Linked DNA regions of Homo sapiens. The protein of the gene in region 3 interacts with the protein of the main gene of each other region in a pairwise test. Each region holds a gene or a part of one and is shown on either strand. Other genes may lie near its edges. The genes, in order: C11orf87, VWC2 and KRTAP2-4.

The links.
Region 1: the proteins of KRTAP2-4 (region 3) and C11orf87 interact in binary tests that used the Homo sapiens proteins (3 or more experiments, as listed by UniProt).
Region 2: the proteins of KRTAP2-4 (region 3) and VWC2 interact in binary tests that used the Homo sapiens proteins (3 or more experiments, as listed by UniProt).

Annotation. Positions count from the first base shown.
Region 1 is NC_000011.10:109,426,128-109,429,728, reverse strand, and holds the end of C11orf87 (uncharacterized protein C11orf87 precursor), read right to left. Parts: 3' UTR 562-3,601; downstream 1-561.
Region 2 is NC_000007.14:49,801,034-49,804,694, reverse strand, and holds part of VWC2 (brorin precursor), read right to left. Parts: intron 1,985-3,661; coding exon 1,855-1,984; intron 1-1,854. UniProt on the Homo sapiens protein: BMP antagonist which may play a role in neural development. Promotes cell adhesion.
Region 3 is NC_000017.11:41,064,585-41,067,509, forward strand, and holds KRTAP2-4 (keratin-associated protein 2-4), read right to left. Parts: upstream 1,296-2,925; 5' UTR 1,262-1,295; coding exon 875-1,261; 3' UTR 532-874; downstream 1-531.

The DNA.
Region 1 (3,601 bases), on a different chromosome or scaffold from region 3:
AGGGCACCCAGAAGTTCCTGAATCTCCAAGAAGGGGACAATGTGTGAGAGCACTGTGGACCTATAGATGGCCGGGGTCAGGATGTATGAGTTTGAGATGGAGGGCAAAGGTCCACGGTGTAAAATTGCTGTGGTAAATGTCAACACAAAAGCCAGTAGGACAATAGCACTTCAAACTAGGGAGCAGATCCTTTTCAGCAGGGTTAAGCTAGGATCCTTCAGAATTTACAGAAGTTGGAGGCTACCTTTCCCCTAACTGGCACAGAATCATGTCAGCCACATCCCTTCCTAATATACCTGATTATATTATAGTAGAGAAGTAGAGGCAGAGCAAGAGGAAATCTGAGAATTTAAGCATATGACCTCAAGATCCTGAGCATCTGTGTAAAGGAGCTGCTACATTATTATACTGGACTGTTTATTGGGTTGTCCTAAATTTTATACACATCCCATTTCTAAGATGTAGTTGGTTTGTGAGGAAGAGCAGATGAGTTATAAAAATTTTTTGAAAACAATATAATTTCTTTGAGCATCTGAGTATAATAGAATAAGCAATTATGTTATCCTGGTATATTGTACATTAAATTGGCAAGGAAATAGTGTCCAAAAAGCCAATTAACAAGAAAACTCTTTTATTGATAGAAAAGCAAAACAAAATTTCCATGAATTCTAATATCTTTTTTCTTCTATCTATTGGATATACTCAAGTTCAAAAGTCAGTTTTTCTGTTGTCATCATTGTCACTGTTGTTGCTGTTCATCTCTCTATAGAAACAATCCCTTGTAATCACAACTGTAAGGGAAATATCCCTACCACAAATGGGTAGGACCTCCTTGATAAGTCATTGTCTCCAAATAAAGTTGATTAAATTCTTATTGTCAGCTAAGCATTCATACATGACACCAATTGTATTATTAGGTTGAAGACATTAATAAGTATTGATGTCAAGCCACATTAGCTGTTTCTCAAATGTTATCAAATAAATAACCAAATCAGAATCAGATTTACATTCATTCCAATGATTAAACACTCTCTTATAGATTGGGCAATTTATTCTAATATGAACTGAAACATCTGTGAGTTACAATCACAAGTTCCAACAAAAAATGGCCCAAATAAGTAGGCCTTTCAGATTCAAATTCAAAGTTCAGATTCACATGGGAATGGGACTAAGGAACCTGATCAGATTATATTAAAATTTCTGGTTCTACTTTAACCTGTAACTTCCACATAATATCAGCTAGCAATTGTTCAACTTTCACCCACAGAAAAGCATGAAAGCATATGTCTACATGATAAAAAAATAAAAATTTAACCATTATCTAATTAATACAATTGATACAGATAGAAATGGTGGAAAAGTCAGATGTCAAAGAAGTTTCTTAAAGCTAATTTATCCATATTATCCAAAAATGATTTCTCAAACTAAACAGATAATGGTCATATTTTCACTTTACCTTTAGCTATGCAGATATAAATTGTATTTCTACACAACATATAGGTTGAAAATGAAAAAAATCAAACCACAATCCAGGTTCCAGGTTTGTGGTCTAGATGGCCCTAAACCTCTTCTGGATATTTTTGCTTTCCATCTAGATATTTAGACCACATTGATATGGTCATAACTTTATTATCATTGCTACATTTGAGTCACTAACCTAGGAAAGGAAGCTTATCTAATTACCAATTTTCCAAGCTAACCAGGACTCTCCCCTTTCATTATTAAAGAGAAAGTCATTCAGATTTGACCCCAGAGAAACAAGTGCATGCACATACCGGACTTTTCAGTATCCTCTTTGGGTAAGAGGATGGAACAACTATTTTGGTTTCCATCTCATTCTTGTAATGACAGAAAAGAGAATACAAAAAGTCAATTGTAAATTTATACAAAACGTATGCATATATAAATACATATCTATGGGTGTATATAAAGTCTAAATATTATATCCATCTACATCTTCAAGATTCAGAGTCTTGTACCGTTGACATAATAGTATTCTCTCTCCAAATTTTCTCATTTTTAAAAACAATAAGAATCAAGCATGCCACCTTATTAATACTGAATAGCAAGTGCAGAAGTTAAGCTGTAGCTATAGGGGTTTGAAGCATTTAGTTTGACGGGACATCAGTGAATAAAATCCTTAAAATAAATTTAGCTATTTCCAGATTGCCTTTTGTTTCATAAAAATGAAAACCTAAATGCCCTGTTGGTAGCATCCCAAGCTCCTGAGACTGCCAATTGAGCCCTATAAGAAGCAGTGCTTTAAACAAGGTCTGTACAAATTGCTTGGATATGTGCTTATTGAAATAATTTTGTGTGGAAACTGGATTACTAGAATTTCATGTAATTCTCTATCTCATAAAAAAATCACAAGTAATACCACTGGAAGCTTAGGTTTTGAGTATATTAAGCTCAGTATGAAATCTGACTCACAAACTGCATCATCTTTACACAGAGCACTATTAAAAATATTAAACTACAGTCAATTAATGGAGAAAGGCACACACATTTAAAGTTGCACAATAAAAGTGTATTACAGATGTGTGCCCACGTTGAGAGGTATTGAGATCATTTGTTTTACAATATACATAATGCTTTTATTTCTCTTGCTCCTTGCATTCCTTTGGGGAGAAATGATGTAGGACAATTTCATAATTACCCCCACAGAGTGTACAGGCTGCTCCTTGGAAGGGGATTATTATTGCATGCCTTGAATATACTATGATTCATAAGGCAAGAACATATGCGTAGCTTCAGCACCAAGAAAATGGAATCGTTATCCAGCACTGCTCACAACAGAACATCTTATTGCTTTAATAAAATGGGAAATTATTCGCTGTAGAAAGTGCACCAAATAAGGGAAAGAAAGTAATATCCATGCACTTATTGGAGCTCATTGGAAATGATGAAGCTCCCTTCTGGGACCCTGATTCTATTCAAATTTCAAGTCCAAAAGTCATTCTGTAATAAGGTATTAAAGAGCTACCACTGGATGAGGGTAAGCTACAAAAATCAATGGACTTTCTTCTTCACAGTGCCTTAGTCATTCTGATGTACAGTGTAGAACTCTGATGCACTACAGGATTCCCTAGTGGCCTGAGGGAGTTAATGCACTCTTTTACCTATTACTAGGAAGTGACTAAGGCACTGGAGAAAAACTGGTTCATTGTTTAATATATTGTACCCAAAGATTATACCTGGTCTTCCTAATATTACAAGATGGCATGCTTCAATGATGATCTTCTGTGCTTCAGGAAAGGTGATTATCTTATGGGTGATTAAAATTAAGTTTATTAAATTATTTTTATAAAAGATGCAAACTGAGCTTGGGCAATTTAATAGATGACCAAAAATATTAGAGGTAATGTTTCCTCTGGATAAGAGCACATATGTCTGGACCAAGTAGACAATTTAGAACAATGAGTTGCTTGGGAGAGGGATGCTCATAGGGGCACTGTTGCCTTACACCCTGCAGGATAGTAAGGACTCTCTTGGTAGAGCTTTTTGCAGATCACTTTCATTCATACATTTTCCAAAAATTTGAATAGCTGTCAAAGGCTTGATTTCCAAGAAGAGATGTCACTGCATATAATTAATATTG
Region 2 (3,661 bases), on a different chromosome or scaffold from region 3:
TATTTCAACTTTTCTGTAGGTTTGAAATTTCTCTAAAAGCAAGAAAAAAAAATCCAGGGGTTGAAATCCTGTCTTCTCACCTATTGTTAACACTCAAGCTAGGATTCCCGGCTATCTAATGCCAAGACTTAGTCTATAATCAAAATTTACAGGAAAAACATGGAATATCTTGGGTAGTTAAGACGCCAAATATTTAAGCAACCCATATTTAAGCCATTCACTAAACCCCTTGACGCAGTGAGAGTTGTTGTCGTCCAGTACCCCCGACATGCAGGGCACATGGCCTGAGCGCCAGCCCTCAGCTCTCCCAGCAGACCAGAGGCGCTCACTCGGGCTCCTCAGCGGGTGTGCTGAAAGCCACACCGAGACTCTGCCAGATTCTCCATCTGCCTCTCCTTCCCCAATCCCAGAGTCTTCTTCCCCCTTTATTAGTGTTAATTAGTGGTAATTAACACTAGTAGAGTAAACTGTATTGATTTCCCTCCATCTCACAGCTGGTGTCTCAACATCATTTTTTTTTTTAAAAAAAAAACACACTCCATGCTCAAAGTCCCCCTCGTTCTTGTCTAATGGAATCCTACCTCAGGATTTCTTCATAATTAACATGCACAAGAGACCAGCCAACCCTATATAAAGTACACTCTGTGACATCTTTGTTTTAACACTGTCCACTTGCCTTTGGAGGACTGGATGTACTATGCTACAATGATTATGACATTCCTAACACAGTCATCTTGTTCTTTCAGGTCTATCCTTCAACAGCAACATCATTCCCTCTTCCAATTATTTACCTCAAGAGTTTTACAATGTGTTGTAGTAAAATCTGGATATGTACAGGTACGTGGTCGAAGGTACCCATGGAACCTCATGGCCCGCACAATTTCGACTGTCATGACAGACTCTGGGAATTGTCTGAGCACCATGACCACCCCTGTGTCACCATCCACCAACACATGCCTGCCACATACCAAACCCATGCCACACAGCTATCAAGCCTCGGTCCAGCAACCCACATGAACGGCCGACAGCATCACAAGTTAGCTCTGAATGCTCTCAACCAGGGGTCCCCACAGCATACCCTGGGCAACATCCAGAAAGCCCAGTCGCTCCTGTCAGCGAGGCCACTCAGATCCTTGTAGACTCCGGCTGTGTCCCCTCTGTCCGCTGTTTCCCAAGCTCTGCTCAGCCTCTTGTCAAACTGCCCTCCGGGCCATAATTCTCAGGCCCAGCCAGCCTGGGTATGCACTCTTGTCAAAAACCGTCTTATAGTGTAATGCCCTCAGTACCTCAGGTACAGAGTAATCATCGTTTGTCAGGATGAGGAAACACTCTCCCATGACAAATTAGGATCAAGGACATCCTGCCACTTCATTTTCATAAAGTAAGCAAGGCTTCTGATCTACCAGGGGCTCTCACTGGGAATAGGAAGGGACTCTCTTCCTGCCTAATTTGCTTATGAAAAATATTCAATTATGTTCCAAGTTTCATTCACTTAGTAATGAAAAGTAAATGAGCCCAACCAGTGTGTTTAATGTGTCTTGGAAAGATAGAAACAGCTTTGCAAGAACAAACAAAGTTAAATTAAAATAAGTGACTCTCCTCAAAGGTGGAAATTGAATTTCTCCCCAAAGAACTTCTTAACATCCATAAAACATGGTGCTGATGCCAGTAAGAGAGAGAAGGCCTTGCTACAGAACCACTGTGGCTGAAAGATTACACACGTGTGTACGCATGTGTATTGATACATAGGATGAAACTCACGTATCCGTATGTGTCCCGTCTACCATGAAGCAGCACATGGGTTGTGCATCAGGGTGGGAGGTGCACCCCGTCACCAACGGGGATCTCACATACCATTTTTGCAGATGGGACAGCACTGATCAGGCTCGTACACAGGGTCCACACACTCCGTCTGGGGACACGCTGACACTGTGCATAGCACCTCACCGTTGGCTTCACAGCGACACCTCTCGCATGGAGACACCTGAAACACAAGCCCACAATCAGCACTTTAGCCTGCTGTCATGTTTATCCTACAGGGTCATATATATTTTTTTGAAATGGAGTCTCGCTCTGTCGCTCACACTGGAGTGCAGTGGTGCGATCTCGGCTCACCGCAACCTCTGTTTCCCGAGTTCAAGCGATTCTGCTGCCTCAGCCTCCTGAGTAGCTGGGATTACAGGCACCCACCACTATGCCTGGCTAATTTATGTGTTTTTTATAGAGATGGGGTTTAACCATGTTGGCCAGGCTGGTCTTGAACTCCTGACCTCAAGTGATCTGCCCGCCTCAGCCTCCCAAAGTGCTGGGATTACAGGAGTGAGCCTGGCCCTACAGGGTCATACTTTTCTTTCCCTAAACTTTCTGCGAAGACACCTAAGTGTTTTAGGAATGTTTAAAAAATGATCCAGCCCAGTGGTTTTCAGAGTGTGGACACAGGCATGCTGGGTGTTTGGTGAGTTGTCTTAGGTGCAAACGCACAGGACGGGCCACAGGGCTATGATGTTCCCTCTCCTGTCCAGCCAGAGCCACTGTTTAATTTGTGGTCTGCATATTGGGTTTCTTATTAAACTTTTTTTTGAAGAAATGTTTTTCATCTCTTTAAAAATTAAACAAATAAAAACTTGCTGCTGAGTTCTTGCCCATCCCCTCACCACGTAGGTGAATCCCTTGTCTATAACCCTGTCAAGTCACCACCCAGACTCACATGGAACACTCCCAGTGTTTCCAGTTACGAAGACACTGGAATAGGAAAGGGGAAAGGGGTGAAGGAGGAGAAACAGGGTGGCATCCAAGCGGGGCCAAGGGCCGGGAGCTCTATGAATATTCCCTCACTGAACTTTTACAGCAGCGCTAAAATACACGTACTCAAATTACTGACCCTTTGTACTAACAGGAAACTGAGACTCAGAGGTGTTAGGCAACATGCCATGGGCATGTCTGTCCTGTGAGCACAAGGTCCTCTTCCACTGAGGGCTCCTGACTGCGAGTCCATGGTGATTCCAATTTCCTCCAGGTCATTCTGCCCACTATCCAGCATCACGATGCTCTGTTAGAAACCAAGCTTCCATTTGCCTCTCTCTACTTTCCAGCCATGGGCTCATACTCTGCCTTCTTGAGCTATCCAAATCAAGCATACCAGCCATTCCCAAGAAAGCTGTACGTGGCTAACGGGACCCTCCATGGTCACTCACACAGGGCATGGTGATTTATCTCCTGGTTACCACCAATGGAGTGATTTTTGATCTGGCTGACCCAGGACAAAGCAGGAAGAGCATATGCAGACCCAGCCATCAGAAGCAAAACTGGGAAGTGGGGATACTCACTAGAAAGACCATGGAAATGGGGGACATGGAAATGGGTCGTATCAAGCTGAGTTCCTGCTTTGCCAGGGGCAGGGAGACCCCAGTTGAGTTGTGTGCCCCACGTCCATGATACAAATACCGCTTGTAAGGTAAAGAACATGAGTAACTCTCACAGATGCTCCCTTTGTCTATACAATGCAAACACTAAAAACTGAAATCTCCACTGAGTGGACTGGCTATTACGAGAAGCAAAAGCTCAACTGGAGTTTAACCATGTCTCTTTCTGAGGCACTAGACCACAGTCAACCTGCCTGGGAGTGAGGGCTAAGGAGTGTGTGTATGTGTACTTGGCCAAA
Region 3 (2,925 bases):
CATGGAAGTGATAGAAAATAAACAGCCTTGGGCCCCACTCCCAGAGATTTTGATTCATTAGGTTTGGTTTGGGGCCTAAGAATGTGCATTTTAATAGGCAATTGCAAGAGATTCTATTGTGTATGACGCATGGGCCACACTTTGAAAAATGCTACTCTAGGAACTGTGGTAAGAAGATGAGATGCGCTGTGCTGGTCAGTTTACTACCAGTGGTCATTCTGGGCTTGGCATATGCTATTCCCACTTCTACCCCTCTTCATGAACATTGTCTTTCCTTTTGTCTATTCCATTAGACCATAAGCTTCTTGGATACAAGGCATGTAGCTTGTTCATCACTAATCAGGCAGCACCTGTCAACTGGAGGTCCCTTGATAAACAATTCCTGAATGACTGAATAGATGAGATTTCTATGGATAAGGTTTTGCTTAGGTTGAGCTTTGTTTCCCTTGTGCAGGTTCCAAAATCTTGCTTATCTGTGTACGCTAATAAACATGCACTAACGAACAAATCAGGGAGCAGGGCAGTCTGCTATGCCAGGAAAAATTAGTTTATTGACAACAGTGAGCAACACATTGCAAAAGATGATGGTGACAGTTTGAGCAGTAAAAACCATCAGGTTGTAGAATGTGTTTGCAAAGTCCACCCCAGGAATTCTTAAAGGTCGATTTACTATCCATAATGACTAAGGCTGATGTAGACACCTGAAAATGTGGGTGAGGGTGGTAATGGACGTCTGCTTACACCAGGCTGTATCCAGATGGTAAAAATCACTATTGTCACCTTGTGAAAAAAAATCTATTTTTCTTTTAACTTTTTAAAAACACCAGATAGATGTTTAGGCTTCAGTGTATTGCTCTGTGGGGGCATTGGGGTCTCAGCAGGAGGAGGTCCTGCAGGTGGTGCTGCAAGGGGTCGGCTGGCCGCAGGGGGGCCGGCAGCAGGGGGACTGCACAGACACAGGCTGGCAGCAGGTGGTGGCCCAGCAGCAGGGCCTGCACACCACAGCCGTGCACGACGAGGGGCAGCAGGTGATGGGGCGGCAGCAGCCTTCCTGCAGGGAGCAGGGGTCGCAGCACACCGGGCGGCGGCAGGGCTCGCAGATGGGGCGCGTGCAGCGGGGCACGCAGGTCACGGGGCGGCACACGGTGGTCTGGCAGGTCACGGGGCGGCAGCAGCAGGGGTCGCGGCAGCAGCAGGGCTGGCAGCAGCCTCCCCCGTAGCTCAGGGAGGACAAGGTGGAGCCGCAGCAGGAGCCGGTCATGGTGGTGTCTGAGGCTGGTGTGGGTTGGGCTATTGAGAGGAGCTGGATGTTCTCAGGTGTGAATGTCCTCCTCCCCCTCTGGGCCCTTTATATACCCTGGCTGGGAGCTGATGACCCTTCAACATATGATCATTTTCTTGTGCATCTTCTGGCCAATTAAGTGAAGATTTAGCATTGACTAATGGTATTTTGGTCACTCTTCACCTCATACATATTCATGTACATACACCACAAATATTCGCTCATTTTCTTGTATTGTTTATCCTCACTAAATTTAGACATTGGATTCACTTCTGATTAATTTTCCTTTGAAATATTCCTAACCCATAAGAGAGAAAAGAATGTGTTTTCTAAATTAGTGTCTAATCGCTCTGCCCTTTGGCGCTAAAATTAGCATGTTCTTCCTTGTCTTCAAAGGCTCCCATCACCGGCACCCAAGCAGTGACTTGCCTTATTAATGCACATGGGCATGATGGTAGCAGGTTAATTGCATCATCCTAGTGCAGACCAGTAGTCATCTGCTTCACAGATAGCTCCTTCCATGACTCACTTAAAGATAGGCTTGTGGTTTTTCATATGAGCAGGGACCACACGAAATGCAGATCCCTGGCCACTGGTGTGGTCACTCTCCCCTGACTAGGACCTGGGCTTTCCTGCCTTGGTTTTGATGTGTCATCATTCACCTGGAATGCCCTCCTCATCCTTCCAATCCAAACTCAACTTCTACCTTGATTGTAAAACCCTCTTCAAGGATCCATTGCAATTATTATATTTGTAATTTGTTTGGAATTAGTCGTTGCATCTGTAGAGTCCGGGAAGGGATTGCGGAGAATATGTAGGCCTATGCCCTCACTCTACAGCTGAGGTCCTGAGAGTGTACCAAGGTCACACAATGAGGTCACCATATGAGGTCTGAGATCCAGGTCTCCTCAGTCTGCAGTAAGTAGCCTCTACTATGAGTTTTATGCTCATTGGATTCAGTAAACCATGGTCTTTAGACAGGAAAGAAAACATATATTAAAGTAGAAGCCCAGACTTCATGCCACTATGCAATATATCCATGTAACAATGCTGCATTTGAACCTCTTACATTTATACATATTAAACACAGATTTAAAAAAATAAGTAATGAACTTTCCTTTCAGCAGCAAGGTTAGAAGTGGTACTGGAAGAGAATTAGGGAAATGTTTTGCCCAGATGACACATTGTCATCCTGGACCCCCATTGACTCCACTAAGTATGACAATGTGTCTGAGAGCTAGAGAAGGGACCTGGAGAAAGCTAACATGATGCAGGGTTTATTAGTGGAACTTACATACAAGGGTGGTCCAGTGGTGGTATCTGGACAGGAGAACTGCTATTATTTGTAAAAAGCATGCAGTTCACACAGTATTTTCATTAGAACCCTCCACCTAACAACCTCCATTTAATCCAAAACAAAGGGCCTCAATCCCCAGTATGACCTGTGTTCTAATGGATGAGGTGGGGATTCAAATGTCCTTCATAGATAAGGAGTGGATCTCCAAGTTGGCCACTCCCAGATCCTTAGCTCAGAACTCCAAGCATACATTCTTCTTTGATTGTAGGATCATTCTCAGGGTATGCTTAAGTTAAGTTATTGCTGCCAGATGTGTCTGCCATACCCTCCACCTCAGCATACCCTT